Linked DNA regions of Homo sapiens: region 1 is linked to region 2. Evidence: fine-mapped QTL for protein levels in blood plasma. Region 2 holds a variant in brackets. A gene starts in the other region. All regions are shown on their reverse strands. Region 1 holds the start of ENTPD6 (ectonucleoside triphosphate diphosphohydrolase 6). Region 2 overlaps SARM1 (sterile alpha and TIR motif containing 1).

Evidence for each region. PIP is the posterior inclusion probability: the model's chance that the variant is causal. Protein levels are from antibody-based Olink assays in UK Biobank. Linkage for the fine-mapping came from a reference panel and not from the study's own genotypes, which makes the PIPs less certain.
Region 1: it holds the start of ENTPD6, and the variant in region 2 is fine-mapped to the plasma level of the ENTPD6 protein (UK Biobank, PIP above 0.99).

The regions. Positions count from the first base shown.
Region 1 is chr20:25,182,213-25,196,966 of GRCh38, reverse strand. ENTPD6 (ectonucleoside triphosphate diphosphohydrolase 6) reads right to left here and starts at 1,255. Exons shown (of 15, transcript NM_001247.5): 1 at 1,100-1,255. It overlaps LOC101926889 (a long non-coding RNA gene), which reads left to right and starts at 75. Exons shown (of 6, transcript NR_109994.1): 1 at 75-344; 2 at 6,665-6,749; 3 at 9,020-9,114; 4 at 9,988-10,070; 5 at 10,268-10,425; 6 at 10,807-12,295. RefSeq lists enhancers at 110-259, 640-709, 1,560-1,799 and a silencer at 1,000-1,419.
Region 2 is chr17:28,379,376-28,394,673 of GRCh38, reverse strand. It overlaps SARM1 (sterile alpha and TIR motif containing 1), which reads right to left. Exons shown (of 9, transcript NM_015077.4): 2 at 12,853-13,471; 3 at 10,105-10,317; 4 at 9,744-9,835; 5 at 9,399-9,634; 6 at 6,398-6,500; 7 at 6,135-6,324. SLC46A1 (solute carrier family 46 member 1) reads left to right here. Exons shown (of 5, transcript NM_080669.6): 5 at 1-32. Among named protein-coding and RNA genes, the nearest start is that of SARM1, 15 kb to the right of the region's middle. RefSeq lists an enhancer at 9,658-9,727 and a silencer at 14,418-14,618. The variant G/A (reference allele first, on the strand shown) is at 3,101.

The DNA of each region.
Region 1 (14,754 bases), not on the chromosome of region 2:
GTGGGAGGGGAGGCGCTTCCAGATCTCCTGACACAAAGGGCTGCCCACCTCCCTGGTCCTTTACCCGAACCTTCAGGAGGCAGACGACACACACACTAGCCAGCCACTCTCTCCAAGGCAAGGGGAGGGGGACAAAAAGCAATTTTGAGATTTGTACAGTGCTTGCCAGGTCCTTCAAAAATGACTACCGGCCGCCCATGGCTCTTGCACAGCGGGTGGGAGGAAGAGTCCTTGTAATCCACCTCTCCCAAGGAACTCCTGCGCGAGGTTTCAGATTCCCCGCCTGCAGGCTATGGCTGACTTCCCCGTATCCTGTGTGACGTGGGATGTGTGGCTTCGCGCAGGTAAGGCTGGAATACAGGTGCCTGGAGGGACACCCAGAGCTGCCCAGGCACTTCCCGGCGGCTGCTTCCTTTGCACTTTGCACTTACAGGTGCACTTATAATAAAAACACCCTCCCTTCCACGCTCCCCTGGGCCCTCCCATCTCTCCTTCCTCTTCCACGCTCTCCTGGCTGTTGAATGTTTTCCACTGAAGGAGTCTAGTCTGTCCACCTAGGGGGCTCTCCCTCCCTCGGTCCAGGGCATTCGCGGCTCACAGGTCAGCTCGGGCAGAACCGCCCTGACCACCTATGAGCTCCTCGGGACACCACCCCAATGCCAGGGTGAATCGTCCTTACACCCTCAGTCCTGTCCGAGCGGCCTGATCCTACCTGTTTCCCAGAAACTGCTACGCGAAGCTTCCCCGCCGGGCTCATCCAGGGCGGAGGGGTCTGTCCCTGACGCAGACTGGGGGCGGGTCCGCAAAAGCGGGCTGAATGAATGAACGCAGCAGGGCTGGGGCCCCCTGGGGCTACAGGCCCCTGCTATTTGGCCCGCCCTGTGGCCCAAAACACTGGACTTGCCCCCCACCGGTCAGCGGAGCCCAGACATCCAGGGAGCCCTAATGGAGCCTGGACAGGAAGGCAGCAGGAGGTGGGACCCGGGGTGCGAGTGACCCCGAGGCCGTCCTCCGGAGCGCAGCGCGCCCGCGTGGGGGAGGCCCGCCTACAGTCGGTGATCCCCGGCCGCCCCCGCCAGCGCCCCGGCCCGCCGCTTACCATGCACCGCGCGCTCCGCCACACCCACGGAGACGAGTGCCCTTTTCCGGGGAGCAGGCGGCAGCCGGTCTTTTGGGCTCCCCCGCCCCGGCCGGCGCCACCCCGGCCTCCACCCGCGGGATACGACCCCACGATTCCCTAGGGCCTGGGCTCCGCCCCATGCACGTGGCGTCACAGGCTGGGCGGGGGGGCGCACCCAGCCGCGCATGCGCAGGCGGGAGAGGAGGTGGGGGTCGGGGGACCCAGTTGCGCAGGCGCGGGCGGAGTATGGGTGCTCAGCTGCGTAGGCGCGATGGCCTTCTTTTCTTTCTGCAGGTGGCCTTGCGGTTTTCTCCAGTCCACAGCCGGGCTGGCGTCGGCCCAGAGAGGGGGGCTCGGCAGTCTGGTTCCCCGAGCGTCTCATGGCGGGCCCTCGCCAGATTCAAGGGGTTCCCTTGGCCAGTTTCCTTACGGCGCGGCGGAGCTGGCCCTCGTCGTCCCTGGTAGGGGGCAGCCTCACAGCCTGGACCGGCCTGTGCAATTTCCCCCATCCCTCCACGTCTACATTTTATTTTTTTCTTTTTCTTTTTTTAGGACAATGCATGATGGAAATGCAGCCACATCATAGCAGGCAGGTTCATGAAATCTGCCCTCCTCCCACCGTTTCTTGACCCCATTTTCTTATTTTTTTTTTTAACAGGTTCTCACCCAGGCTGGAGTGCAGTGATGTGGTCTCAGCTCACTGCAACCTCTGCCTCCCGGGTTCAAGCGATTCTGTTGCCTCAGCTTCCTGAGTAGCTGGGATTACAGGTGTGCGCCACCACGCCTGGCTAATTTTTGTACCTTTAGTAGTGACGAGGTTTCGCCCTGTTGGTCAGGCTGGTCTCGAACTCCTGACCTAAGGTGATCCGCCTGCCTCGGCCTCCCAAAGTGCTGGGTCTATAGGCATAAGCCACCACACCCGGCCCTTGACCCCATTTTCTGTCTTCCTAGAAATCACCAAGGTTGCAACTCCTGACTGTCCTGGCTCACAGGCTCCAGCTTACTTAAGGACCCCACGGTGGGGGCTGCCCACTTGCACACCTATGCTAGGCGCCCTCATTCCCGCAAGGGCCAGAGCCCCTTCCCGGCCCATGGCGTCTGGCCAAGGAGGTGTGGGTGCGCCCCAGCCAGGCCTGGTCCTAGAGGACGGCCCCACCTGCGCACTGGGGCATCTGGGAGAGCTATTAGTGGAAGAAGCCCAGGTTCCTGAAGCACCAAGTGGGCAAGAGTTTATTTTCAGGATGGGACGCTTTTGAGGGTGAATAAGTGCTAGCTGTATGGGATGCGGGGACAGTACACAGGCCCGGCCTGGCAGCCGGGCAATGCGGTGCCTGTTGGAAGGTCGCCCACAAGCACCTGGTTGGACACTGCCACTGAGATTTGGTTATTACAGAGGTTAGCCTATGCGGGCCTTCACTGATGGACCTTGAAGTGTTTCCCAGTTGCTTTGGGTTAGGAATAATGTGACTGGATCCCGTGGATTGTCTTTGTGCATGCATGTGGGTATATCTGTCAGAAATATTCTTAGAGGTGGAATTGGCTATGGTGGGATATGTCCTTTAAAATAATATATTAGCCAAACGTGGCTAAATTGCCCCCCTTAGACACTGTACTAATTTACACTCTGGCAAATAATGTGTAAGACTGTGGGTTTCCACACATCTTCACCAGTGGGGTCTTTCCAAACTTTTGGATCTTTCCCAATCCAATAATGACAAAACTATATCTCATGGTTTTAATTTACACTTCCTAGTATTTTGAGATCCTGTCGTGAAGTGGTGATGGCCCTGTTTCTGCCTGCTGCACTTGGCAACATGTGTTATCACTTCCTTTCTTTTCACCACTTTTTACTCTTAGAGTTTCTAGAATTTGTGAAAGTAAAATCTTTTTGCTGGCATGGGCTTTTGTGTGTATTATACACTGCTTGGAAAGGTCTTGCACCACATCTTCCCTTCGTAGATTGTTTCTCAATGTTTAATACTCAGCTCAAATGTCACCTCCTCAGACCATTTTATCTAGAATGGCCTCCTCTAGTTATTCTCTGTCACCTTTTATGTTATTTCCTTCATAGCACTCATCACACTGTAACCACCCAACAGCTTCTTCTTGCCTGTCGCCCAGATAGAGCCAATTTTTCAAGATGGGAATTGCAATAAAGAGTTCGATACACATAGAGCTGGCTAACCAGGAGAGCAGAGGCTTATTACTCCTCAAATCAGCCTCTCCTCAAATTCGGAGTCTAAGGAATTTTTTGGGGGGGGTTTGTTTTTGAGACAGTGTCTTGCTTTGTTGTCCAGGCTGGAGTGCAGTGGTGCAGTCTAGGCTTACTGCAACCTCCACCTCCTGTTCAAGCGATTCTCATGCCTCAGCCTTACAAGTAGCTGGGATTACAAGCGCACACCACCATGCCCAGCTAATTATTTGTATTTTTAGTAGAGACGGGGTTTCACCGTGTTGGCCAGGCTGGTCTCGAACTCCTGCTCTCAAGTGATTTGCCCTCCTTGGCCTCCCAAAGTGCTGGGATTGTGCCAGTCTGGAGGCTAGGGTTTTTAAAAGATAGTTTAGCAGTCAGGGGGCTAGGGAATGGTGAGTGCTGATTGGTTGGGTTAGGGATGAAATCCTGAAGAGATGAAGCTTTCGTCTTGCTCTGGGTTAGTTCCTGGGTTGGGGTCACAAGACGAGATAGCCAGTTTACCAGTCTGGGTGGCTAGTCCATCACAATGTGGGGTCTGAAAAATACCTTGAACACCAATCTTATGTTATATAATAGTAATATTATCTATTGGAGCAATTATGGAGGTTAGGAATCTTGTGGCTTCGGGCTGCATGACTCCTAAGCCATAATTTTTTTTTTTTTTTTTTTTTGAGATGAAGTCTTGCTCTTGTCCCCCAGGCTGGAGTGCAATGGTGTGATCTCGGCTCGCTGCAACCTCTGCCTCCCGGGTTCAAGCAATTATCCTGCCTCAGCCTCCTGAGTAGCTGGGATTACAGGCACCTGCCACCACGCCCGGCTAATTTTTATATTTTTAGTAGAGACAGGGTTTCACCATGTTGGCCAGGCTGGTCTTGAACTACTGACCTCAGGTGATCTGCCCACCCTGGCCTCCCAAAGTGCTGGGATTACAGGTGTGAGCCATCGCGCCCGGCCCATAAATTTTAATCTTGTGGCTAATTTGTTAGTTTCACAAAGGTGGTCTGGTCCCCAAGCAAGAAGGAGGTTTGTTTCAGGGGGGGGCTGTTATATTTGGTTTAAAGTGAAATTATAAACTAAGTTTCTCCACAGATTTGTTTGGCCTATGCCCAGGAATGTGCAAAGGCAGATTGGAGGTTAGAAGATGGAGTCGGTTAGGCCAGCTTTCTTTCACTGTTGTAATTTTCCTATGTCATATTTTTCTTATTGTCATAATTTTTGCAAAGACACAACACCCGTCATTACTTGTTTGCTGACTTGTTTATTGGTAAATTCTTTGTTCCACTACTGAAATGAAGCTCCATGAGAACAAATAAGTTGGTCTGTCCTGCTCACTGCTGCATGTCTGGCACTCTGTCTAGAACATGGTAGGTGCCTGTAGCATACATTATTGGTGCTAATGTCCCTTGCCTGCCTCTGCCGTCAGCTCTCTGATTGTTGTGGAGAGTTCCCCTGAATGCTGCCACCTCAAGCATCTCGTTGCTGTCCTCTTTAGGGCTTATCTTACGACTTTCTCCGGAAGCCTTGGGAGCAGGCGCAGCCTGGAATTCAGGGAAATTTAACATCCCCGGGGCAACTGCAGGGCAGTTTGGGTGGCCTTGGACAGACCCAGTCCCCTTTTTACCATGTAGTTCTCAGGAATAACTGCAGAATGTGCTAGGATTGCAGCATCTTGAGATAAGGGAGAACTGGCTGAACAGCCCAAGGTCAGTTCCAGTCTCCTGCTGAAAATAGGATGTCCTTCAACACTGCCCAGCAAATCACATTACCCTGGGATGTTAAACCCAGGGCAGGCTGCTCTCTGGCATTCCTCGTCTGTGGTGCAAGTGGGGCATGCCCAGTTGAGACTCCATTTGCCCTGAGCAGATTTCCTGAGCCTCAGGCAACCAGCTTGCAATGAATGCTCCTCTTGTCCCTTGCTGCCTGTCTGTAAGTAATAAATTTGCTTCATATAACTTATTGAGTATGAATGCGTTCTCTCTCACTGGACACAGACATGTTGGTAACCAATGCACAGTGAACCTCCTTCACAGCAACCCTTAATTAACTGGGGATATATACCTCAGCCTTCTGTCCCCAGAGGACCAATTCTGAGTCCTCAGTAGAAGTGAGCCTCAGTGACCCTTAGTGGTGATCAGCTCAGTAATGCCCCCTTGGGTTGGTCCTCCGATCTTTCTCGGTTCTCTCTCTCTCTCTCTCTCCTGCTTCTGGGAATCACCTCCCAGGTCAACTACCTGCATCTAAGCTCTTGACTCAAACTGCCTTTGGGTAAACTCAAATGAAGTCAACATATAAAATATTTCTTGAAGAAATGGATGGATTGATGAGGGTGCTTCTAATGTTTTCACTTGTCAGCCAGAAGCAGCTCAGCCCTGCAGGCAGAAGGTGAAGGAAGCCAATTGGCACCCGCCCTAGGAATGCAGGAGCAGATAACTGAGACATGGGCTCCAGCAGAACATGTATGCAAGTGTTCTGACAGCAGGGGGGAGTGCCTGGCCCTGCTTTTTGGGGGTGAGAATGTTTTAGAAGAGGTTGGTGAGTTACCAAGCTGCCTCAATTTACCTAACTTGAGTAATAGTGGAGGAAGCCCTCTATTGTGTGTGGCTTGCTCACATGTGTCCACCTACTCACAAAAGTCCAGGAGGACAGCTGCAAAGCTGTCTGCTCAGTGAAGGAACAGAACATGGACTGTGCAGTGTCTCTGTAGCAGAGGCTGCCAGGCCTCCTGCCTGTGTCTGTCCCACTGTGTGCTCCCGTGACTCTCCACAGCAGGGCCTTCTTTTGGCAGAGGAAGTGCCAGGAGGTAATGCTTCTGAGAGCAGTTTCAGCCCATGTCAGGTGCAAAGACCCTGGCTCCCTTTCCACTCAGGACAACTCTCCGGCATGTCTACTTGGCATTGAACACAGTGGTCCAGAGCGGTAACCCACACTGGCTTTCCTCCCTTCCCTGTCTCACTGCCCCACTCCTCTACTGGTTTTTCCTGGTGTCACCTCCTAAATAAACTACTTGCACTCAAATCATTCTTTAGAATTTGTTTTGGAAGAATTCAACCTAAGATACCATCACTCATAGGTCATTTGTTAATAATATCAAACAAAACATCTTAGCCACTGCTCTGATTTCTTCCTTTGGTTCCCTGAAATCTATAACCACAAATCACTGCTTTCTCTACCAAATATTTTTCCTGTAACTCACCAAAAAAGTCAGATCTTCCCTGCTCATGGCTAGCCTTCCATTTTCCAAAATCTACTACAAACAAGAAAAAATGTGAGGGAAACCCTACTCTTCCCCAAGAGAACTTGGCATTTATGATTCCTGCCTGCCACATGGGCCATTGTGTGGTCTCTTTTAGCTTCCCGATGGATGATCCAACAGATGTCATCTTGCACTGTAGTGATAGTCTTGTTGGGACCACATGAAGTGCAGCTGTAAAACAGGTAATACTGTTCTTGGCAATTGGTCGACTGTCCTGGTAGGGGGAGACTGGTGTGAACAGATTGTCCCATTTAGAGTAGCTGTTAATGGACTGTCTTCTCTCCATGAGGGCCTTTAGCATTTTACATTGTATAGGTTGTCGTCTACCAGATTAAGAAAATGTTCTTCTATTTCTAGTTTAAGAGTTTTAAAAAATCATTAATGAATGTTCAGTTTTATTTTGTGCATTTCCTTCATCTATACATGATATTATTATTTTTCTCCACTAATTTTCTTTTTTGTTTGAGATGGAGTTTCGCTCTGTCACCCAGGCTGGAGTGCAGTGGCATGATCTTGGCTCACTGCAACCTCCACCTCCCTGGTTCAAGCAATTCCCCTGCCTCAGCCTCCCAAGTAGCTGGGATTACAGGCACACGCTGGCATGCCCAGCTAATTCTTTTGTATTTTTAGTAGAGACGGGGTTTCACCATGTTGGCCAGACTGGTCTCGAACTCCTGACCTCAGGCAATCCACCTGCCTCAACCTTCCAAAGTGCTGGGATTACAGGCGTGAGCCACCGCGCCGGCCCACTAATTTGTTAATATGATAAGTTCTAACGTTGAATCATTCCCGCATTCCCAAATAAGCATACTTTTAAAATACATTGCTGGATTTGACTTGCTAACATTGTGTTTAGGTTCTTTGCTCCTACATTCACAAAAAGATTGGCTTCTAATGTTCTTTCTAATATAGTACTTGTTTAGAAACTATCAAGATTAAATTAGCCTTACAGAATGAGTTGGAGATTTTCTGCCTTTAAATCTTCTAAATGGGTTTAAGTTTTGAAGTTTCTATTTCTTGAATATTTGATGGAATATTTCTGTTTTCTGTGTGAAATATTTTAAACTGCTGATTCTATTTCTAATCAAGCTTTCTACTTCTTTCGCAGGCAGTTTTGGCATCTTTCTAAAGGAATCATCACATTTCACCTAAGTTTTCAGTGTTACTGGTATAACATTATTCACATCTTCTTAGCATTTGCAGCGATAGCCTCCATTTCACTCATAATAATTAATTTGTAAATTTTCCTTTTTTTCTTGGTCAGCATCTCCAGAAATGCCTAAGTTTTATTACTTCTCTTCCCCAAGAGCTAACTTTTGGCTTTGTGGAACTCCTCTGTATCTTTGTTTAATATTTTTAAATTTATTTCATCTTTATTATTTCTTTCTTTGTACTTAGAGTGTGTTGTTTTTTAAAATTTTCTAGTTTAAGCTGAACACATATTAATTTTTAGCCTATCTTCTTTTTTTAAATTAAAGACTAAAACTTTATTATTCTTATTTAAAATAAATGAAGCAAAAGAAGTTACAAGAGAACTTATGTCTAACCAAGAGGCAGGTGGGTGAGTGGGAAGGGAGGCTGTTCTCTGCTCACTGCAATGCTGCACATCATGGTGGAGAGTAGGTCATGCTGTGAGAAACAAACTCACTGGTCCAAACCCAAAGTTTGGGCTCAGAGACCCAGAGAACAGTGGAAGCGAGACTTTAATGACAATCTTGCAAGATCGGGTGTCTGATGGGCAGGCACACCCAGTACAGTTTCAAAAGCAATTTATCCCCTAGTGTGCAGGTCCCTCCCTTGGTTCCTCATAGGCTGAGTACTATGGGGTCACAGTCTTCCTGGACATTGCCTATTGGTTGTTGGGTAGGGGTTTTAGGCATTTTCTTTAGGATTGTTCTGCTGCATTTTGTTGCAGCCATAATACATTGCAATCCTAGTTAGCTCAAGGGCTCTTCAAGTACTTGACTTATGACCTAAGTATCTGGGCAGGCTGATAAGAACAGACAAAGTGAGCTATTTTGCAAGCTAGTAAACTTTCATCTTAGACTAAACTCCTTTGGTTTGGGTGAGGGCAACTAAGGCAGTGGGGTAGGGTGGAGGGTGGGGAGGCGACAAGCAGGCATTGGCTATCCAAGCAGGGGCCTAGTGTATCCTGTTTCTTCTGTAGTTTGCTGACCTAAACCAATTCAAGGCACTTTGTCTTGGAAATGGACCACTGTATATATTATTTCCTTCATGCTCAGTACAGATAGCTCTCTCAGGGTTATTGTTAACATTCAAGGGGTGATAAAACAAATGCTTCCTGCAGCCAATTCCATTATCTAAGAATCCAAGTCAAATTTTGTTTTGTTTTGTTGAGAAAGGGCATTGCAAAGGTTCAAAAAAATGAAGTCCAAATAGCACTGTATCATCAAGCATTTGCCTTTTTAAAGAATGTATGTATATTTTACAGCCCAGCACCTCACGCTCAGGAAGGGTGTTTCTGAAGACTGATAAAGCCCCTTCAGTGAATGGCGCCAGGGCACAGCTGTCCACGACAAAGTGAGGGTTAGTAACTGCAGCGAGGAAGCCACATCAGAGGCCTCCTGCCTTCAGCATGGGATAGACAGGATTGCGGAGAAGGGAGGAGTTCAGGTGAAGTTTAAAATGAAGCCGTTTCTGACAGGCTGAAAGCAGGGCTGTGGGTCACAGGGTGACACATCACACTGGGCTGAGAGGCTGACTTGGGGGCCCGAGCTCAAGACAAATGCACCATGTTGTATCTGGAAGCCCCTTATCTGAGGCTGTGAGCCAAGGTGAGAGCTCCAGGCTGCTTCTCTGTGTGGAGTGGCCTGCATGGCTGAGCATCTGCAGGCGACAGGATTCCAGACAGCAAGCTTTCTCAGGGCGGAGAAGTGGAGTACGAGATTTCTCAGCACAGAGGCTGAGGGAGCTGCCTCAGGCTGGCTATCTTTGTTCCTTAGCCCTGCTCTCCTATTACCTGGGGCCTGCCCCTCCTCCCACCTATCTCCTGGCTCCCAGTCTCCCAGGCTCCAGAATGCTTGGGCCAAGGTAGCTAGGTAACCAGAAGACACTCACCCTTGGTGCACTGGAAACAGTAACACCAGAGTGTCCTCCACATGACCCCAGAACTATGACAAGGTCCCCCTCAAAAACCATCCCTACTAGGGAGCCCCAAGCCAGGCTGCCCAGTGGGAGCTATGTGCTGCTGTCTTACTCGAAGTCAACTTTCAGCCTATCTTATAAGAAATGCAGTTAGAGCTTTGCATTTCCTATAAGCACCCTTGTAGCTCTGTCCCACACATTTGGCTGTATTGTATTTTTGTAATTGTCAGTTTGGAACATTTTCTAAAGTCCACTATTACAGTGTTTCTCTGTCCATGTGTTATTTAGAAATATTTTTGCTCTCTCCATTCCAAGATGGCCAGATAAGAATAGCTCCAGTCTGCAGCTCCCAGCATGATCCACGCAGAAGATGGGTGATTTCTGCATTTCCAACTGAGGTACCTGGTTCTTCTCATTGGGACTGGTTGGACAGTGGGTGCAGCCCACAGAGGGCGAGCCAAAGCAGGGTGGGGCATTGCCTCACCTGGGAACAACAAGGGGTTGGGGGATTTCCCTTTCCTAGCCAAAGGAAGCCGTGACAGACTGTACCTGGAAAAACGGGACACTCTCCCCCAAATACTGTGCTTTTCCAAAGGTCTTAGCAAATGGCACACCAGGAGATTATATCCCGCACATGGCTCGGTGGATCCCACGCCTATGGAGTCTTGCTCACTGCTAGTGCAGCAGTCTGAGATCAACCTGTGAGGCAGCAGCCTAGCAGGGGAAGGGGCGTCTGCCATTGCTGCAGCTTGAGTAGGTAAACAAAGCGGCTGGGGAAGCTTGAACTGGGCAGAGCCCACTGCAGCTCAGCAAGGCCTGCTGCCTTTGTAGTCTCTACTGCTGGGGGCAGGGCATAGCAGAACAAAAGGCAGCAGAAACTTCTGCAGACTTAAACATCCCTGTCTGACAGCTCTGAAGAGAGCAGTGGTTCTCCCAGCATGGTGTTTGAGCTCTGAGAATGAACAGACTGACTCCTCAAGTGGGTCTCTCACCCCCGTGTAGCCTGACTGGGAGACATCTCCCAGTAGGGGCCAACTGACATCTCATACAGGTGGGTGCCCCTCTGGGATGAAGCTTCCAGAGGAAGGATCAGGCAGCAATATTTACTGTTCTGCAATATTTGCTGTTTTGCAGCCTCCGCTGGTGATACCCAGGCAAACAGGGTCTGGCATGGACCTTCAGCAAACTCCAACCGACCTGCAGCTGAGGGACCTGTTAGAAGGAAAACTAACAAACAGAAAGGAATAGCATCAACATCAACAGAAAGGACATCCACACCAAAACCCCATCTGTAGGTCACTAACATCAAAGACCAAAGAGAGATAAAACCACAAAGGTGGGGAGAAACCAGAGCAGAAAAGCTGAAAATTCTAAAAACCAGAGCACCTCTTCTCCTTCAAAGGATCGCAGCTCCTCACCAGCAATGGAACAAAGCTGGATGGAGAATGATTTTGATGAGCTGAAGGCTTCAGAAGGTTGGTAATAACAAACTTCTCTGAGCTAAAGGAGGAGGATGTTTGAAACCATTACAAGGAAGCTAAACACCTTGAAAAAAGATTAGACGAAGGGCTAACTAGAATAAGCAGTGTAGAGAAGACCTTAAATGACGTGATGGAGCTGAAAACCATGGCATGAGAACTATGTGTTGCATGCACAAGTTTCAATAGCCAATTCGATCAAGTGGAACAAAGGGTATCAGTGATTGATGATCAAATTAATGAAATAAAGGGTGAAGAGAAGTTTAGAGAAAAAAGAGTAAAAAGAAATGAACAAAGCCTCCAAGAAATACAAGACTACGTGAAAAGACCAAATCTACATTTGATTGGTATACCTGAAAGTGATGGGGAGAATGGAACCAAGTTGGAAAACACTCTTCAGGATATTATCCAGGAGAACTTCCCCAACCTAGCAAGGCAGGTCAACATTCAAATTCAGGAAATACAGAGAACACCACAAAGATACTCCTTGAGAAGAGCAGCCTCAAGACACATAATCATCAGATTCACCAAGGTTGAAATGAAGGAAAAAATGTTAAGGCCAGCCAGAGAGAAAGGTCGGGTTACCCACAAAGGGAAGCCCATCAGATTAACAGGAGATCTCTCAGCAGAAACTCTACAAGCCAGAAGAGAGTGGGGGCCGATATTTAACATTCTTAAAGAAAAGAATTTTCAACCCAGAATCACATATCCAGCCAAACTAAGTTTCATAAGTGAAGGAGAAATAAAATCCTTTACAGACAAGCAAATGCTGAGAGATTTTGTCACCACCAGGCCTACCTTACAAGAGCTCCTGAAAGAAGCACTAAACATGGAAAGGAACAACCAGTACCAGCCACTGCAAAATCATGCCAAATTGTAAAGACCATCGATGCTAGGAAGAAACTATATCAACTAACGGGCAAAATAACCAGTTAACATCATAATGACAGGATCAAATTCACATATAATAATATTAACCTTAAAAGTAAATGGGCTAAATGCGCGAATTAAAAGACACAGACTGGCAAATTGGATAAAGAGTCAAGACCCATTAGTGTGCTGTATTCAGGAGACCCATCTCATGTGCAGAGACACACATAGGCTCAAAATAAAGGGATGGAGGGAGATCTACCAAGCAAATTGAAAGCAAAAAAAAAAAGCAGGGGTTGTAATCCTAGTCTCTGATGAAACAGACTTTAAACCAACAAAAGATCAAAAGAGACAAGGAAGGCCATTACGTAATGGTAAAGAGATCAATGCAACAAGAAGAGCTAACTATCCTAAATATATATGCAACAATACAGGAGCACCCAGATTCATACAGCAAGTCCTTAGAGACCTACAAAGAGACTTGGACTCCCACACAATAATAATGGGAGACTTTAACACCCACTGTCAATATTAGACAGATTAACAAGACAGAAGGTTAACAAGGATATCCAGGACTTGAACTCAGCTCTGCACCAAGCAGACCTAATAGACATCTACAGAACTCTCCACCCCAAATCAACAGAATATACATTCTTCTCAACACCACATAGCACTTATTCCAAAATTGACCACACAGTTGGAAGTAAAGCACTCCTCAGCAAATGTAAAAGAAAAGAAATCAGAACAAACTGTCTATCAGACCACAGTGCAATCAAATTAGAACTCAGGATTAAGAAACTTACTCAAAACCGCACAACTACATGGAAACTGAACAACCTGCTCCTGAGTGACTACTGGGTAAATAAAGAAATGAAGGCAGAAATAAAGATGTTCTTTGAAACCAATGAGAACAAAGACACAACATACCAGAATCTCCAGGACACATTTAAAGCAATGTGTAGAGGGAAATTTATAGCACTAAATGCCCACAAGAGAAAGCAGGAAAGAACTAAAATCAACACCTTAACATCACAATTAAAAGAACTAGAGAAGCAAGAGCAAACAAATTCAAAAGCTAGCAGAAAGCAAGAAATAACTAAGATCAGAGCAGAACTGAAGGAGATAGAGACACAAAAAACCCTTCAAAAAATCAATGAATCCAGGAGCGGGTTTTTTGAAAAGATCAACAAAACTGATAGATCACTAGCAAGATTAACAAAGAAGAAAAGAGAGAAGAATCAAATAGACGCAATAAAAAGTGATAAAGGGGATATTACTACTGATCCCACAGAAATACAAACTATCATCAGAGAATACTATAAACACCTCTATGCAAATAAACTAGAAAATCTAGAAGAAATGGATAAATTCCTGGATACATACACCATCCCAAGACTAAACCAGGAAGAAGTTGAATCTCTGAGTAGACCAATAACAGGCTGTGAAATTGAGGCACTAATTAATAGCCTACCAACCAAAAAAAGTCCAGGAACAGATGGATTCAAGGCTGAATTCTAACAGAGGGACAAAGAGGAGCTGCTACCCTTCCTTTTGAAACTATTCCAATCAATAGAAAAAGAGGGAATCCTCCGTAACTCATTTTATGAGGCCAGCATCATCCTGATACCAAAGCCTGGCAGAGACACAACAAAAAACAGAGAATTTTAGACCAATATCCCTGATGAATGTAGATGTGAAAATCATCAATAAAATACTGGCAAACCAAATCCAGCAGCACATCAAAAAGCTTATCCTCCATGATAAAGTCAGCTTCATACCTGGAATGCAAGGCTGGTTCAACATATGCAAATCAATAAACATAATCCATCACATAAATAGAACCAATGACAAAAACCACGTGATTATCTCAATAGGTGCAGAAAAGGCCTTCAACAAAATTCAACAGTGCTTCATGCCAAAAACTCTCAGTAAACTAGGTATTGATGGAGCGTATCTCAAAATAATAAGAGCTATTTTTGACAAACCCACAGCCAATATCATACTGAGTGGGCAAAAACTGGAAGCATTCCCTTTGAAAACTGGCACAAGACAGGGATGCCCTCTCTCACCACTCCTATTCAACATAGTGTTGGAAGTTCTGGCCAGGGCAATCAGGCAAGAGAAAGAAATAAAGGGTATTCAGTGAGGAAAAGAGGAAGTCAAATTGTCCCTGTTTGCAGATGACATGATGGTATATTTAGAAAACCCCATTGTCTCAGCCCAAAATCTCCTTAAGCTCATAAGCAACTTCAGCAAAGTCTCAGGATACAAAATCAATGTGCAAAAATCACAAGCATTCCTATACACCAATAAACAGACAAACAGAGAGCCAAATCATGAGTGAAGTCCCATTGACAGTTACTACAAAGAGAATAAAAAACCTAGGAATCCAACTTATAAGGGATATGAAGGACCTCTTCAAGGAGAACTACAAACCACTGCTCAAAGAAATAAAAGAGGACAAATGGAAGAACTTTCCATGCTCATGGATAGAAATAATCAATATAATGAAAATGGCTATACTGCCCAAGGTAATTTATAGATTCAATGCCATCCCCATCAAGCTACCAATGACTTTCTTCACAGAATTGGAAAAAACTAAAGTTCATATGGAACCAAAAAAGAGCCTGCATAGCCAAGAGAATACTAAGCAAAAAGAACAAAGCTGGAGGCATCACACTACCTGACTTCAAACTATACTACAGGGCTACAGTAACCAAAACAGCATGGTACT
Region 2 (15,298 bases):
GACATAATAAACAACTAATAGTAAGTAAAGTGCTTTCCTGAGTTCTGTGAGTCATTCTGGCAAATTGAATCTCGGGGTGTCATGGGCACCCCCGAATTTGTAGCCAAATCAAACAGAAATGTGGCAGCCTGGGGGCCTGGGCCTCGTGACTGACATTTCAGAATTGAATTGAATTGCGGGATACCCAGTTGGTGTTGGCAAGCTGGAGAATTAGTGGTTAGTGTGGGAAAAACCCCAAACAATTTGGTGTCAGAAGAAAAACATCACACTCCTGCGTACAGGTTGATCCATCATGCGCCCTGCCAATTGTACTCCTTACTTATTTCTCAAATCCACTATTTTTCCCTACCTCCACCCCACTACCACCCTCTTCCAATCCCCATTATCTTTAAGCCCCCACCAGGTCTTTCCTCATCCACGCTTGTCTTCTCTAATTCACTCTCCACATTGCCCTTTCATGTAGCTAATATTTGCAAAATGCACATCTGACAAATTAGGTCCTGTCACCCCCTACTTAAAATTCTTCAAGACTTTGCATGGTCTTAGAATAAAGTCCAAACTCCTTCATGTGGCCTGTGAGACCCTATGTGGTTGGCCACAGTCCACTTCTCAAACTCTACCCCTGCCCTGTCCTCCCAGACACACAAAATAAGCTTCCTTGTCCTTCCCCCTTGATAATGCCCATTCATTTTTCTGATCTGAGCTCAATCAACTCTTACACAGGGCAGTTGTCTCCCACTGCCCTGACCAAGTCAGTTCCCCTATTATAGGCTCTGCAGAACATATTATAGTTGCAAATTTTAATTAATTAATGGGTAAATTACTCAGTATTTGTCTTCTCTGCCAGACATGAGGAGGGATCATATCTATTTTTCACTGACCTTATATCTCAGCATCTTTCACAAAGCCCTTATAGTTAGCCCTTGCTAAATATTTAATAGATGGATGAATGAATGAATGAGAAAACATAGCACAGCAGTTAGGGCTGCACTCTGGAATCATCAAATCGGGGTTTGCACTGAGTCTCTGACACAGGCTCTACGACCTGAGGCAAAAATAATAGGTTCTCAAAGTCTCTGTTTTCTCTTTTCTTTCTTTCTTTTTTTTTTTTGGCGGGGGGCAGGGGAACAGGATCTCACTTTTTGCCCAGGCTGGAGGGCAGTGGCACCATCAAGGCTCACTGCAGCCTCAACCTCCTGGGCTCAAGCCATCCTCCCACCTCAGCCTCCCAAGTAGCTGGGACCACAGGCGTGTGCCACCATGTCCGGCTAATTTTTTGTATTTTTTAGTAGAGATGGGGTTTCACCATGTTGCCCAGGCTGGTCTCAAACTCCTGGCCTCAAGTGATCCTCCCACCTTAGCATCCCAAAGTGTTGGGATCACAGGCCTGCACTACCACACTCGTTCCTCTGTTTTCTAATATATAAAGCAGGATTAATGATAGTCCCTGTCTTCAGGATTGTTCCATGGAATAAGCGCAACATTCCATGGCAAGTAATTAGAACAGTGCTTTGCATGCAGTGTATGCTTAATACGTAATAGGTGTTATTATTTCCTCTTCTGTAAAGTGGGGATAATAAAACCTACCTCAAAGCGTTGTTCTGAGGAATTATTTGCTAGTAATCGGGTTCCATTAAGTGCTTATTGAATGTTTTTCTTCCTCTCAAGAGGGAACCAAAGGGATTTTACTTTTTTGAGTGCAGTTCACTTGTGGTTTTTCCCTATTGATTACCCACTAATGTGGCTTCAGGGAAAGGAGTTTTAAAACCAGAGGCAATTAAGCACCAGAAACAACCAAAGAGGGATGACGGAGCCTCTGGGGCCGGTCCAAGACAAAGGCTCCTCTCACCTCTTTGCCATCTGCTGGGACGACAAGGGGTGCCAAGCATTCTTGGGAAGTGGAGCCTTCCTGGGGAAAGAACATGCGTAACTTCGTCCTTGACTGGCTTCCTGGGGAGCCGCTCCATTTTACAGATGGAGAGAAAAAAGCCCAGAGAGGAAGGGATTTCCTCCTAAGCCACACACACGCCCAGCCCACGAGGGGCCGGTCCTCTGACTCAAGCCTCGAGAGTCCAAGTCCAGGCTGTTTCAGCCAAGCCCTGCTGCCTTTCTGCTGAGCATTGGAATGAATCCTGAGCCTGCAGCAATTTATTTGGAAATTTTTAGAAATTTGTTTCATCCAGAATTATACAAAACCAAAGACAGTACAAATTATTCATCGCACAGATTCAGAGGCTGGCCAAGAAAGGGATAATGGCGGCCGTGTGTGGTGGCTCATGTCTGTAATCCCAGCACTTTGGGAGGCCAAGGCGGGCGGATCACGAGGTCAGGAGATCGAGACCATCTTGGCCAAGATGGTGAAACCCCGTCTCTACTAAAAATATATATATATAAATTAGCTGGATATGGTGGCGTGTGCCTGTAGTCCCAGCTACTCAGGAGGCTGAGGCAGGGGAATCACTTGAACCCGGGAGGCGGAGGTTGCAGTGAGCCGACCAAGATCTCACCACTGCACTCCAACCTGGTGATAGAGCAAGACTGTGCCTCAAAAAAAAAAAAATAATTAAATAAATAAAAGAAAGGGATAATGGTTTGTTCAGGATCACCTAGCTGGTTGAGAACGAAAACAATTAGAGTCAAGTCCTCTGGCTGGGCACGGTGGCTCATGCCTCTAATCCCAGAACTTTGGGGAGCCGAGGCAGGCACTGAACTCCAGGCTTGAGCTCAGGAGTTCGGGACCAGCCTGGGTGACATAGCGAAACCCTATCTCTACTGGAAAAAAAAAAAAAAAAACGGAGTCAAGTCCTCTAACCTGGTAAATCTACTAGATATGTATGGCTCTCCCAGGCATGGCATCTCAGCTTCATCAGTATCACTTGTCTGCTTAATCATTGATTCAATTGTTCTATAAACTCCTCTACAGCCTCAGCCTCTCTCTCTCTCTCTTTTTTTTTTTTTTTTTTTTTGGTGCAATTGCATAGAGCCTCCTTTGTACCATGCATGGTTTTAGGCACCAGGGACACAGATGAATGAGGCAAGGTCTGAAGTCTCATGGAGCTCACAGACACTCTTTTCTTTCTCTCAAAAGGCTGCCTGCCAC[G/A]TGCTCTGGGTTATCAGCCATGTTCTTCCTGGATGCTCAACTGCCCCAGTGCCCCTCCCCAAACCAGGCCTAGTACTCAGCCCCTCCTACATGGCCTCTGGGGCTTGACTCCACACTCCATGTGGACTGCATTCCAGTGTCAGAGCCTTCATCCTAAGACCCACCGCCCTGGCATCTTCTCCTTCATGGGCTCCTTGATTTCCAGTGCTTTAAGCACAGGTCTTCTCCTGCCTTTAGACACTGCTTTACCTGGTTTCCATGGTTCTTATCCAGCCAGTGGTGTGCTGCTAACTTTATAGTAACTAGCTATTCATGGGGGAAGAAAACCCAACCAGCCAATCAACCAAACTAACAAAACTTTGATTTGTAGTGGTTGCCAATTTCCTTGGTGTAAATACTCCCACCATGGCTGATGACAAGCTACCAACATGACATCACTGGATGTGGAGTTGTGAAGAGATACAATCATCTCTGGTGTCAACCGAATCCAGCCCTACCCCATCACCTCCCCTCACACCCCCTCAGAGCTGTGCCATAGAATGCAGTGTGGATCTTGGGAAAGTGATGAGCTTTGGAGTCAGATAGATGGAATTTGAAGCCTAGCTTTTCTGATTTCTACACTAGTAGTGCAGCCAGGGGAACATTATTCTACTTTTCTGAGCCTCAGTTTCTTCATCTGTGATATGGAGAAAGCAGTACCAAGATGTATGTGGGCTTTCAGCACTGTTCTCCTCCCTACCTTTATTCCTTTGCTCATGCTGTTACCCTGGCCTGGGATGCCTTCTATTCCACTTACCCAGATTCTTAAGATTCTTCTCAAGACCTGCTTCCTCCATGAAGTCTTCCCTGATTATTCCAGTCCTTTGAGGACTAAACTCTGATTTTTTTTTTTTTTATCTTGCCCAAATTCCTACCTAAGGAGCCTAGGGAGTCATGCCCTACAAACCATAAAGTCTTATCGGAGGAGGTTTTAATTTTAACCCTATATAGCGTGGTCTGCTTTCTAACCTGACTCTAGCATAACATCACATAATAAGGGAGGAAATAAAAATATTTTAACCCCAAATATATTTCCCTGCCATATCTTGAAATTGCTCCACAAGTTTGTCTCTTGTGGGAAAAGGCCACATTCTATAGAGAATCCCCTTCCCCCCATTTTTTTCTTTTTCTTTCCGGACTCAGGAGATAATCAACAAAGAGCCAGGCACCCTTATAAGTCTGATAAGAAACATTTTATAACCTACTCCCTCTGAAGTCTGCCCTGAGAACTTCCTCTGCACAATAAAACTTGGTCTCCACAACCCTTTATCTTAACCTAAACATTCCCTTTCTATTGATCCCAGGTCTTCAGATAAACTCAATTAATTATCAACTGGAAAAATTTAAAATTTACCTATAGCCTGGAAGCCCCTGCTTTGAGCTGTCCTGCCTTTCTGAACCAAACCAATGTACATCTTAAATGTATTGATTGATGTCTCGTGTCTCCCAAAAATGTATAAAACCAAACTGTGCCCTGATCACCTTGGGCACGTGTTCTCAGGGTCTCCTGAGGGCTGTGTCACAGGCCATGGTCGCTCATAGAGTCTGACTCTTTTCGTTGACACCTTGATGCTCTCTCCCTTCTCCAAACCCCTGTGGCAAGCAAGATGTTTGCTTACCTGGCTCAGCATTTACACCAACTTGTATGCGATCTAGTCATTTTGAGACAGGGTCCCACTCTGTTGCCCAAGCTGGAGTGCAGTGGTGTGATCTCCGTCTTCTGGGCCCAAGCGATTCCCCTGCCTCAGTCTCCTGAGTAGCTGGGATTACAGGTGTGCGCCACCATGCCTGGCTAATTTTTGTATTTTTTTAGTAGAGACAAGGTTTCACCATGTTGCCCAGGCTGGTCTCGAACTCCTGACCTCAAGTGATCCTCCTGCCTCAGCCTCCCAAAGTGCTGGGATTACGGGTGTGAACCACTGTGCCCAGCCCTCTGGGCATATTCTTGTCTCTGAGCTGACTGCTTGTCTCATCCTGTCTCTTAGATGACTACTGCATCCCTCAGCCCCAACTCCAATTCCTACTGACCGATTAATGATTAATAACCTGAAGATGCAATATGGAGCTATCCATCAATGCATTCTGTTAGTATTCAATAAGTTCCTACAATGCGTCAGGCACTGAAAATACAATGATGAATTAAACAGATATAGTAGTTATAATAATTATATTAATAATAATAATTGCTACCATTATTGAGCAGTTACTATGTGCCAGCCATTCTGCTAAGCACTTCACAAATTTTGGCTTTTTTAGTCCTTATAACAATGTTCTAGGGAGTTAGATACTATTATTATACCCTCTTTCCAGAAATAAATATGAAGCTTATCGGGGTTAAGTAACTTGCCCAAGGCCAGAGCCAGGATTCAAACTCTCAGTTTTGAGCTCTCAACAACTATTCCATTCTGCCTGTCGCTATGCTCTCCTGTCTCTCATGGAATTTATTTTTCAAAGCATTTTTATGTCTCTCTGATCCTCACAACAGTTCTATAAGGTGAGTGGAACAGGTAAGTTACCCCATTTTGCAGAAAAGAAAACTGAGGCTCACATCCTGGCTAACACGGTGAAACCCTGTCTCTACTAAAAATACAAAAAAATTAGCCAGCCGTGGTGGCGGGCACCTGTAGTCCCAGCTACTCGGGAGGCTGAGGGAGGAGAATGGTGTGAACCCGGGAGGTGGAGCTTGCAGTGAGCCAAGATCACGCCATTGCACTCCAGCCTGAGTGACAGAGCGAGACTCTACCTCAAAAACAAAAAAAAAAAAAAAAGAAAAAGAAAACTGAGGCTCAGAGAGCCAAAGCCTAGTCTCTTGTCCCTTGTGGTTTGCTAAAGTCCTATTACAGTCAGAGCTGTGGTTCCTGACTTCCAGCTGGGCCAAGGAGGTGCTTCAGGGCTAAGTGTGCCGGGATGTGCAGACAAGAAGGAATAGAAGACGACCCTATCTTCTGGACCACAGGCCAATGCTGGGACCGCAGAAGCATAGGCAGGCACCTACCTTATGCACCCAATCCTTGCAGTCATGGTCTTGCATGCACTTGTCCAGTGCTCCAGGTGATAGCACCAACACAAAGTTGCGGGCACCCATGACACTCTGGATGAGTTTGTCCTCGAACTTGCCTGCTTCCAGCTTCTCCACATCAATGAAGACACTGAAGCCATGCAGCTGCAGGTGCACCTTCAGGAGACTGCAAGTAAGTCCTGTGTCAGTGCCACAGCCTTGTCCCCACGCCCCGTCGCTGCCCGCCCGCCCCTCCTCACCTGGCCAGCTGGGAACCTGAGTTCCGGCGGTAGCTGATGAAGACATCTGGAGTGTCCCCACTGGGTTTGCCACCAGTACAGGGCAGCGGGGAGTGTAGCATTTCTGAAGTGGGCAATAGGCAGCATGGTGAAGGTGGCCCCTCCGCATCACTCACTGTCAGGTATATCATCCCTTGTGGACTTAGTCCCCAGTCCACCAAGCCCTCTCAGCCCAGCCTGGGGAGGGTGGCCTGCCCCAAAAAGGAGAAATGGGGCCTCCAGGAGGAAGGTCATGTTATTGTTGGGTTCCTCTTAGGAGGCAGGCACTGTGTTCTAGGGACATTGATATGCATGCACTTCCAGCCCTGACCTCTCTCTGGAACTCCAGACCTGAACAGCCAGCTGCCCACAATCACTCCAAATTCAACACACCCCAAATCTCCCCCTCATTCCTTCTTCCCTATTTCCCACCAAAGCCAGACACCTGGGTATCAGCCTCAACTCCTGCCTCCCATTTAATTTATTCAACAAATACATCCTAAGCACTTGCTGTGTGCCAGGACTGTCTTCAGTGCTTGAGATTCAGCAGTGAGTAAAACAGACAGCACTCTGCTCCTCTGGAGCCACGCTCAGTACTAAGCGCCAGGCACCGCATTCTGAGGATTCTACCTACTAAACATACTGGACTCCAGCCTCCGGGCCCTTCCCTGGCTCAGGTTTCCAATGCCAGCCTCCTCAATGGCCTCCCCAAACCCAGCTAGAATTGCCCAGTCTAGGCCAGGGCAGTGGCCCACACCTGTAATCCCAGCACTGTGGGGGGCCAAGGTGGGTGGATCACTTGAGGCCAGGAGTTCGAGACCAGCCTGGCCAATATGGTGAAACCCTGTCTTTACAAAAAATTATCCAGGCATGGTGGCACATGTCTGTAATCTAGCTACTTGGGAGGCTGAGGCACGAGAATCACTTGAACCCAGGAGGCAGAGGTTGCAGTGAGCCAAGAATGCACCACCGCACTCTAGCCTGGGCGACAGAGTGAGACTCTGACTAAAAAAAAAAAAAAAGAAAAGAAAAGAAAAGAAAAGAATTGCCCAGTGTAGTCCATTTGCCACAGCTACCAGAACATCTTTCTAAAATCCAAATCTGAGCATGTCATTCCTCCCACTTAAAAACTATGCATGGCTCCCTACTCACTATACAAACTATTTTTTGTAAGCTATTTTTGCCCTAGGATTTTCCTGTTGTTTAAAAATGAAATCTTGCGCTGGGTGCGGTGGCCCACGCCCGTAATCTCAACACTTTGGGAGGCTAAGTTGGGAAGATTGCTTGAGGCCAGGAGTTTGAGAACAGCCTGGGCAACATAGTGAAACCCTGTCTCCACAAAAAATAAAAAAATTAGCTGGGTGTGGTGTTGCGCACCTGTGGTCCCAGCTACTTGGGAGGTGAGGTGGGAGAATCACTTGAGCCCGGGAGGTTGAGGCTTCAGTGGGTTGTGATTGCGCCACTGCACTCCAGCCTAGGTGACAGAATGAGACCTTGTCTCAAATTAATTAATTATAATAAAAATGAAATCTTGAAGTTTTAATGGGAGCTGCAATGTAAAAATAATAAAAGCCAACCTGCTTTGGTTGAAGCATAAGAATGCAGCCAAAGCTCAGTCCCTTGTGTCTTGTGGGTGCTTAGTCTGTAATTGCTGAATGAAAGGATAAAATGAAAAGAATTCATCTTCTTATAATATTTAGACATAACCCTCATAGACAACATTTGTTTGTTTATGAAGCAGAAAGACAAGGGCTCAAGTCCCAGTTTTGCCATCTAATGACTTTTATGACTGTGGGAAATGTATTTGAATTCTTTAAATGTTAGTTTCATTATCTTTAAAAGGAACACCCATGATGGAAATATTCTATATCTTTAATGATGATGGTGGGGGTGGGGGGTCACACAGATGTCTTTCAAAACTCCTCAAACTGATACTTTTTTTCTTTTTTGAGATAGGGTCTCACTCCTGCTGCCTAGGCTGGATGGAGTGTAGTGACCTGATCACAGTTCACTGCGGCCTTAACTTCCTGGGCTCAGGTGATCCTCCCACCTCAGCCTCCCAAGTAGCTGGGACTACAGGTATGCGCCACCACACCTAGCTAATTTTTTGTATTTTTTTGTGCTTTTAGTGGAGATGGGCTTTCACCATGTTGCCCAGGTTGGTCTCAAACTCCTGGACTTGAGCGATCCGCCTGCCTTGGCCTCCCAAAGTCCTAGAATTACAGGCATGAGCCACGGTGCCCGGCCCTCAAACTGGACACTTACTCCTCTTTTTATTCTTTCAAGAGTTCTTTAAGGTTGATTTTAAAAACTGAACACTCATTGCATAGAATCAATATAGAGACTGATGGGATAATATCTTAAAAACCAAACAGAGTACCTTGTAATTGACAATAAAGATTAGCTAAGTAGTAAATTAGTAAGTAAAAATAAATTAGTAAATAAGGAGGGTGGCTAGAGGCCTAGAATTCACTCTAAACCACCTCTAGACCCAAATTTTGTAAGCTGTTGGCCAATAGGATAACACACATACGCACACCCTTCCCGCCTACACCCCACTGCATGGACTCTCCATAGGCCGCTGCCTCTGCCTGGGCTGCCCTTCCTGTTGCCACCCCTCCCCGCCAGTGCACCTCTCAAGACATGGTCAGGCATCCTGTCCTCTCTGAAATCTAGACCTGGGTGGATGGGGTGGGCTGGGCTTCCTCTGTGCTCCCACTGGAGACCTGGGTAGCTTCCTGCCGGGGCCGCTTGCCTGTTTAATAGCCTCCTTCCTCCCACCGCCTACCCACCTCAGACTGGGAACTTCTTGAGGTAAAGTGCAACGTATTCATCTTTACATCCTCAGAGCCCAGTGTGACCCACGTTTGTGCTCAATCAATCCACGGCGAGGCTGGAAGGCTCCACCCCGTGTCTCCCCTCACCATTCCAGGGCCGTGGCTGGGGCTGGGGCTGGGGCGGGGTCCCGGGTGAGCGGGCTGACCTCTGGCCGCCGTGAGGATGCGGGCGCGGTGCACGCCCAGGTGGATGCCGCAGTCTTCCAGCAGCTGCTGCTCAGACACGCGGTGCAGCAGGGAGCGGTCCAGGCCGCAGCTGACCAGGCCGTAGGTGTACTGGCGGAAGCGCGGGTCCAGGCTGCCCAGCCAGTCCGCCAGGTTGCTGCGGTCGCACGTAGAATAGTTGGCGAAGGTCTTGAGCTCCGTGAGCTCCCTAAAGAACCTGCACCCCACGGAGGAGAAGACGCTGAGGTCCAGACTCGGACGGGCTGTGGGCGGAGGGGGAGCTTATTTAGACCTAGCTGGGGTCCGGCGGGCAGGAGGCTCCGTACCTCTTGCGGGTGATGCCCGATTTCATGCCCAGGTCGGTCTGGAGTTCCTCCTCCGTGAGCCGCAGAAGCAGGTCGCCATCCACCTGCTGCTCCTGGGGGAGGAGTCGGGTGTCAGGAAGGGCTTCGCTACTCCGCCCTTGGACCTCGAGCACAAGATGCAAGGGAAGGAACTGGAGATGGCGTGGAGGAGGCGGATGGGACCTAGATCAGAGCCGAGTGACCCTAACGGTGGCTGCGTACAGGCTCCCCGCCCCCAAAAGCGACCCTGGCGCCGCGGGATTGCGAGGCGGGGAGGGAACGCAGTCCCTGTGCACAGGGCGCCCGCTCTGACTCGGGGGAGGCGTATCCCACGCGACTCTACCCGGAAGCTCTCGCAGTACTTGGAGAAACCGATCTGCTGCAGCCACGTCTGAACCTCGGCCTCCTTCCAGCTGGGCACGGAGGGCAGGATGGGCCGTGGCACCTCCTCGCCCAGCAGGCGCAGCGCGCGCTTGGCCAGCGCCGACTTAGTGCCATTGGTAGAGTAGGAAACCAGGCGTTTCAGGCTCTGGATGGCGCCGATGTCGCTGAACACCTAGGGAGGGAGTGGGGAGAGGGCTGTAGGTCCCACCAGCTCTCCAGGTGCTCCCACACGTGCCCAGTCCCTCTCCTTGTCTCTTCTCACAACCCAAAGTCTCTCCATCTGCCCTGGCCCCACCTTCAGCCACTAAGTCATGGGGTCCTGCGGATTCCCCCTCCTGAAGTTCTCTCAATTCTTGACCAGGTCCTGACTCGGATGGGTTGGGGGCGGAGGGGCCTATCCCTCCTTTATATCCCTTCTACAGCATCCACCGGCCCTGGAATAAAGTTGAGCTCTCAGCATAGCGCCAGGCAGGGCACAGTGCAGCTGCCCATCACTCCCAGTTCACCTCACCTTCCACTAACTTACACTTCACACACACACGCACATGCACACATTCCAAGGCTTTCACACCTCTGGGTCTTGGCCCACTATGTTTCCAAACCCTTAGTTCTTCCAGTCTGCTCATGGGAATCCTCCCACTCCACGGAAATCCTACTCATCCACCAGAATCCAAATTGATTAGCACCTCCTTCATGCAGCCTGCTTTGATTCCCCCACATCCTGGCCCACACCTCCAATGAGGTCTTATACCACACTCTGAATGCCACTGTCACTGGTTGACGATGCAACTTCCACTGGAGTATAAGCTGAGGACATGTCTTAGTCACTACTGGAAACCTGCATCTGGCACGATGAAGGACACAGAGTGGGACTCGAGATGTCTTTGTTGAACTACACTCACTTGGCCTCGATGGGAAAGGGGTGACAGGCTGGTGATCATGGTTGCGGCCCAGATCCAATCCTTGGGGTCCTCACTCCCTACTTCCTTTAAGACCCTTTTCCCTAAGCAAAATGACCTGCCTTGTAGAGCAGGTCCTCCCTGACCCAGCTCTGGAGTGCAGAGAGAAGAATCAGAAGTTCCTAGAACACTGGATGTTGAAAGAGGCCCCAGAGACCCCCCTAACATAGCAGTCTCCTTTTTCTTTTTCTTTTTTGAGATGGAGCCTCACTTTGTAGCCCAGGCTGGAGTGCAGTGGTGCGATTCCAGCTCACTGTAACCTCTGCCTCCCAGGTTCCTGTGATTCTTCTGCCTCAGCCTCCCGAGTAGCTGGGATTACAGGCACCTGCCACCATGCCCAGCTAATTTTTGTATTTTTAGTAGGGACAGAGTTTCACCATGTTGTCCAGGCTGGTCTTGAACTCCTGACCTCAAGTGATCCACCTGCCTCGGCCTCCCAAAGTGCTGGGATTACAGGCATGAACCACCTCACCCAGCCAGCAGTCTCTTTTTGATCTGCAGGGACATACATGATGGGTGACAATCATCTGTAAGACACACTCCTTTGAGCACCCCCAGATGACAGCTGGGGTACAGACAAGGTGGGTCATGGGGTATGCACCACATCTCTGTGCACCAGCTATCACCAACCTCCAAGCCTCCACAAAAAAATGCAAAGAAGAGAGAGTGATATTGTAGGGAGAATCTTCAACCTGTAACATTTTAAAAACAAAGCCCAGCTGGGGGATTGTGGTGCGTGCTTGTAGTCCCAGCTACTTGGGAGGCTGAGGCAGAGAGGATCGCTTGGAGCCTGAGAGTTTGATGCCAGCCTAGGCAATATAGTAGATCTCTGTTTCCAAAAAGTACAATCCACAAACTTGTGGTGCTAAAACTATCCCACATCTAGGGTAAGAACTGCTGCTGTGGTCCAATTTACTGAATTTTCCAGAAGATAAAAATGAGGCCCAGATAGAGGCCTAGAGAGGGGAAGCCAGGTGCTCAAGGTCACACAGCAAGTTAAAGCAGTGGGCAAAGGTCACTGGTGGATTAGGCCCTGGACATGAGGACCCCTTGGGACTCCGATGGGGGTTATCTGGCTGACACACTGATGTCCTGTCCCAAGCCGCAAGCCTCTGTCTCTAACAGCCATCTTGACTCCAGACTCAAAAGGCTACACTACCCACTGAAGCTCCCCAGCTGGGCATCTCTCAGGCATCTCAAACTCCATATGTCCTGCAGAAGTCACTTTCTTCCCCTTCCCCACTTCCACTTGTCTCTCACCCAGTTCACTTTATTCATTGCCTATGTTCAGGGCCAGGAGTCATCCTCAGCTCCTCTTTCTCCTTCTCCCAGCCACCAAGTGCTAACTCCATCTCTTAAACATCTCTTGAATCTGCTCTCTGCCACTGGCATCGCTGTCTCCCCCTTCCCCCAACGCCCACCCCTGCAAGTCATAGTTTTTTATTGGGTTGCCTTGCCTCCGTCCTCACCCTTGCCAAGCCCCTTTCCACACAGCAGCTAGGATGATCTTTGTAAAACACAAGTGTCCCCTTGCTTAAAAGCTTCTTAGTGTCTTCCTCTTGCCCCCAAAACCAAGTCCAAACTTCGGGTTTGCCTTCAACGCCAAAATGACTGGCCCGCTCCTCCTTTGTCTTGCTTCATCTAATTCTGATGTGTATTTCAAGACCCGGTTGAATGTGACTTCCTCTGGGAAACCTTCCCAAAGGCTCTCTAACCCCTGATCCACCCAACCCCACATCTGCACCCACCTTGGTCTTGCCTTGCAGGCTCTTGATGGCAGCCTCGGCGCAGAGGTAGAAAGCCCCGATGCACTGCGCCTCCAAGCGGTTAGAGTCGAGCAACGGCACGAGGCGCTGCAGGTCGTCGGGCCCGCGGCCCTGGCTTGTGTCGCTGGCGTCCACCAGACAGCGGGCGAAGCGGCCAGGGTCCAGCGAGGCCACAAGCGGCTCCACGAGCGCCAGCGTGCCCGAGCGCTCCACCTCGCGCTCCACCTCCTTGTTAGTCGCCAACACCGCTACTGCGAGGCAGGCGTGCAGCCGAAGCAGCTCGTCCTCCTTGGAGAAGGCGAGCGGGAAGAGCCACTCGGCTGCGCGCTTCTCTACCATGCGTCGCTGCACCGCCTGGCCCCCGTGCAGCGCGCAGTTGCCCAGCGCCAGCGCGCAGTGGCGCAGCAGCGCGGGGTCCGTGCGGCGGCACCAATACAGCACCGCGTCCAGGCCGCCGGCCGCCACCAGCCTCTGGCATGTCTCCTCCGAATGCTTGAACATGTGCTCCAAGATGCCTGCCACGCTCCGCGCCAGCTCTACGGGTTCGCGTTCCTTCGCCAGGTTCAGGATCACGCCCAGCCCAATGCGCGCCACGCGGTCTCTGCCCAGTGAAAGTGGAAGGGGACAGTGGAATTGCCGCAGCTTGGGGAGCTTGGCTTGCCCGTTTGGGGCCTGGTCACTAACCCTCTCTGGGCCTCACCGGCCTCATATAGGGGAGAGCATTCCCCTCCCTGCTCCCCACCCTCATCTCCTCCCCTGGGAGGACCCCACTTCTCGGATTCTAAGGGTGCTCTATTCTGGCCATAGCCGTTCTCCCCCTCCCTCCTCCCCTTGAGAGGCAGTATGTGTGGTGGCTAAGAGCCTCAGCTCAGGAGCAGATCCCCTGGGTCCTGGTTTCTTCTCAGCCCGTTTTCTAACTGGGATAAAGGAGACCTTTGGGCAGCTTCCTTTATCTCTCTACCTTGCTTTCCTTATCTCATAAATAGAAAATAGAAATACCTGCCTCATAGGATTATTATCAGGACTAATGAGATAAGCCTTATAGAGTGCTTGGCACAATGCCTGGCACATGGTAAAAACTCAACAAATATTAACTTGTCCTAATTTGAAGTGTCACTTGAAGCACACCACTCTTAGCCTTGCCTTTTCCTCACTCCATGGCCCATGACCGGGGCATATCTATTCATTCATTCAACAGATGCTTCCTGAGGACGTCCCCTGTGCCAGCCACTGCACTAGGGGCTGAGGTTTAACAGAGACTGGCCAGAGCTTATCCTCAGGGCGATGGAGGAAGACATAGACAAGAAAACAATGAGTGAACCAGATCGTAGTGATAGGGCCTTGGCGCTAGCAAAACAGGATGATGTAATGGCGTGTGCCTGGAGGAGGGGTATGTGGGAAGAGGTGACATCTAAGCTTAATGTGAAGAAATCCCTGTGTGCAAATATCTGGGAGGAGCATAACAGGCAGAGAGAGGAGCAAGGATGAAGGCCTGAGGGCAGAGGAGCTGACGTGTTTGAGGAATAGAAAGAATGCCAGAGGTATTGCGATGTCTAAAACCAAAAAGGGAAAATATAAAACCAGGCTGGGCAAGGTGGCTCATGCCTGTAGAATGCTTGGCACAATGCCTGGCACATGGAGGCCAAGGTGGGAGGCTCACTTGAGACCATCCTGGACAACAAAGTGAGACCCTGTGTCAAAAGAAAAAAAAAAAAAAGAGAGAGAGAGACAGAAAAAAAAAAAAAAGAAAAGAAAAAAATCAATGAGGGGTTTATATGTAGAATATATCAGCAAATATTCAAATCAAGAAGAAAAAGGCAACAAATTCAAAAGAAAATGGGCAAAGGACATAAACAGGCAATTGACAAGAGGAAATCCAAAATTTGAAAAACCAGATAAAGAGATGCTCTAACTCATTAGTAATCAGAGAAATGAAAATTAAAACAATAGCTATCGCTACCTGAAATGTTCTTCAACAAAATCCGCTTCATGGTTCGTCATTCCAATGTCTGCTCAAATGTTACTTCCTTCCAATCATCCAATCTAAAGGCTTTTCCCCATCACTTTCTAACTCATTACCTTATTTTATTGTCTTCAGGGCATTTAATATCTGATATTATATTAATAGTCTACTTGTTTGTTAGTTCCATAGACCAGAAACCTTATCTGTCATTTTCTTTCTTAAAATGATCTAGGCCGGGTGCGGTGGCTCACGCCTGTAATCCCAGCACTTTGGGAGGCCGAGGCGGGTGGATGACAAGGTCAGGAGCTCGAGACCATCCTGGCTAACATGGTGAAACCCTGTCCCTACTAAAAATACAAAAAATTAGCCGGGCGTGGTGGCGGGTGCCTGTAGTCCTAGCTGCTCAGGAGGCTGAGGCAGGAAACTGGTGTGAACCCAGGAGGCGGAGCTTGCAGTGAGCCAAGA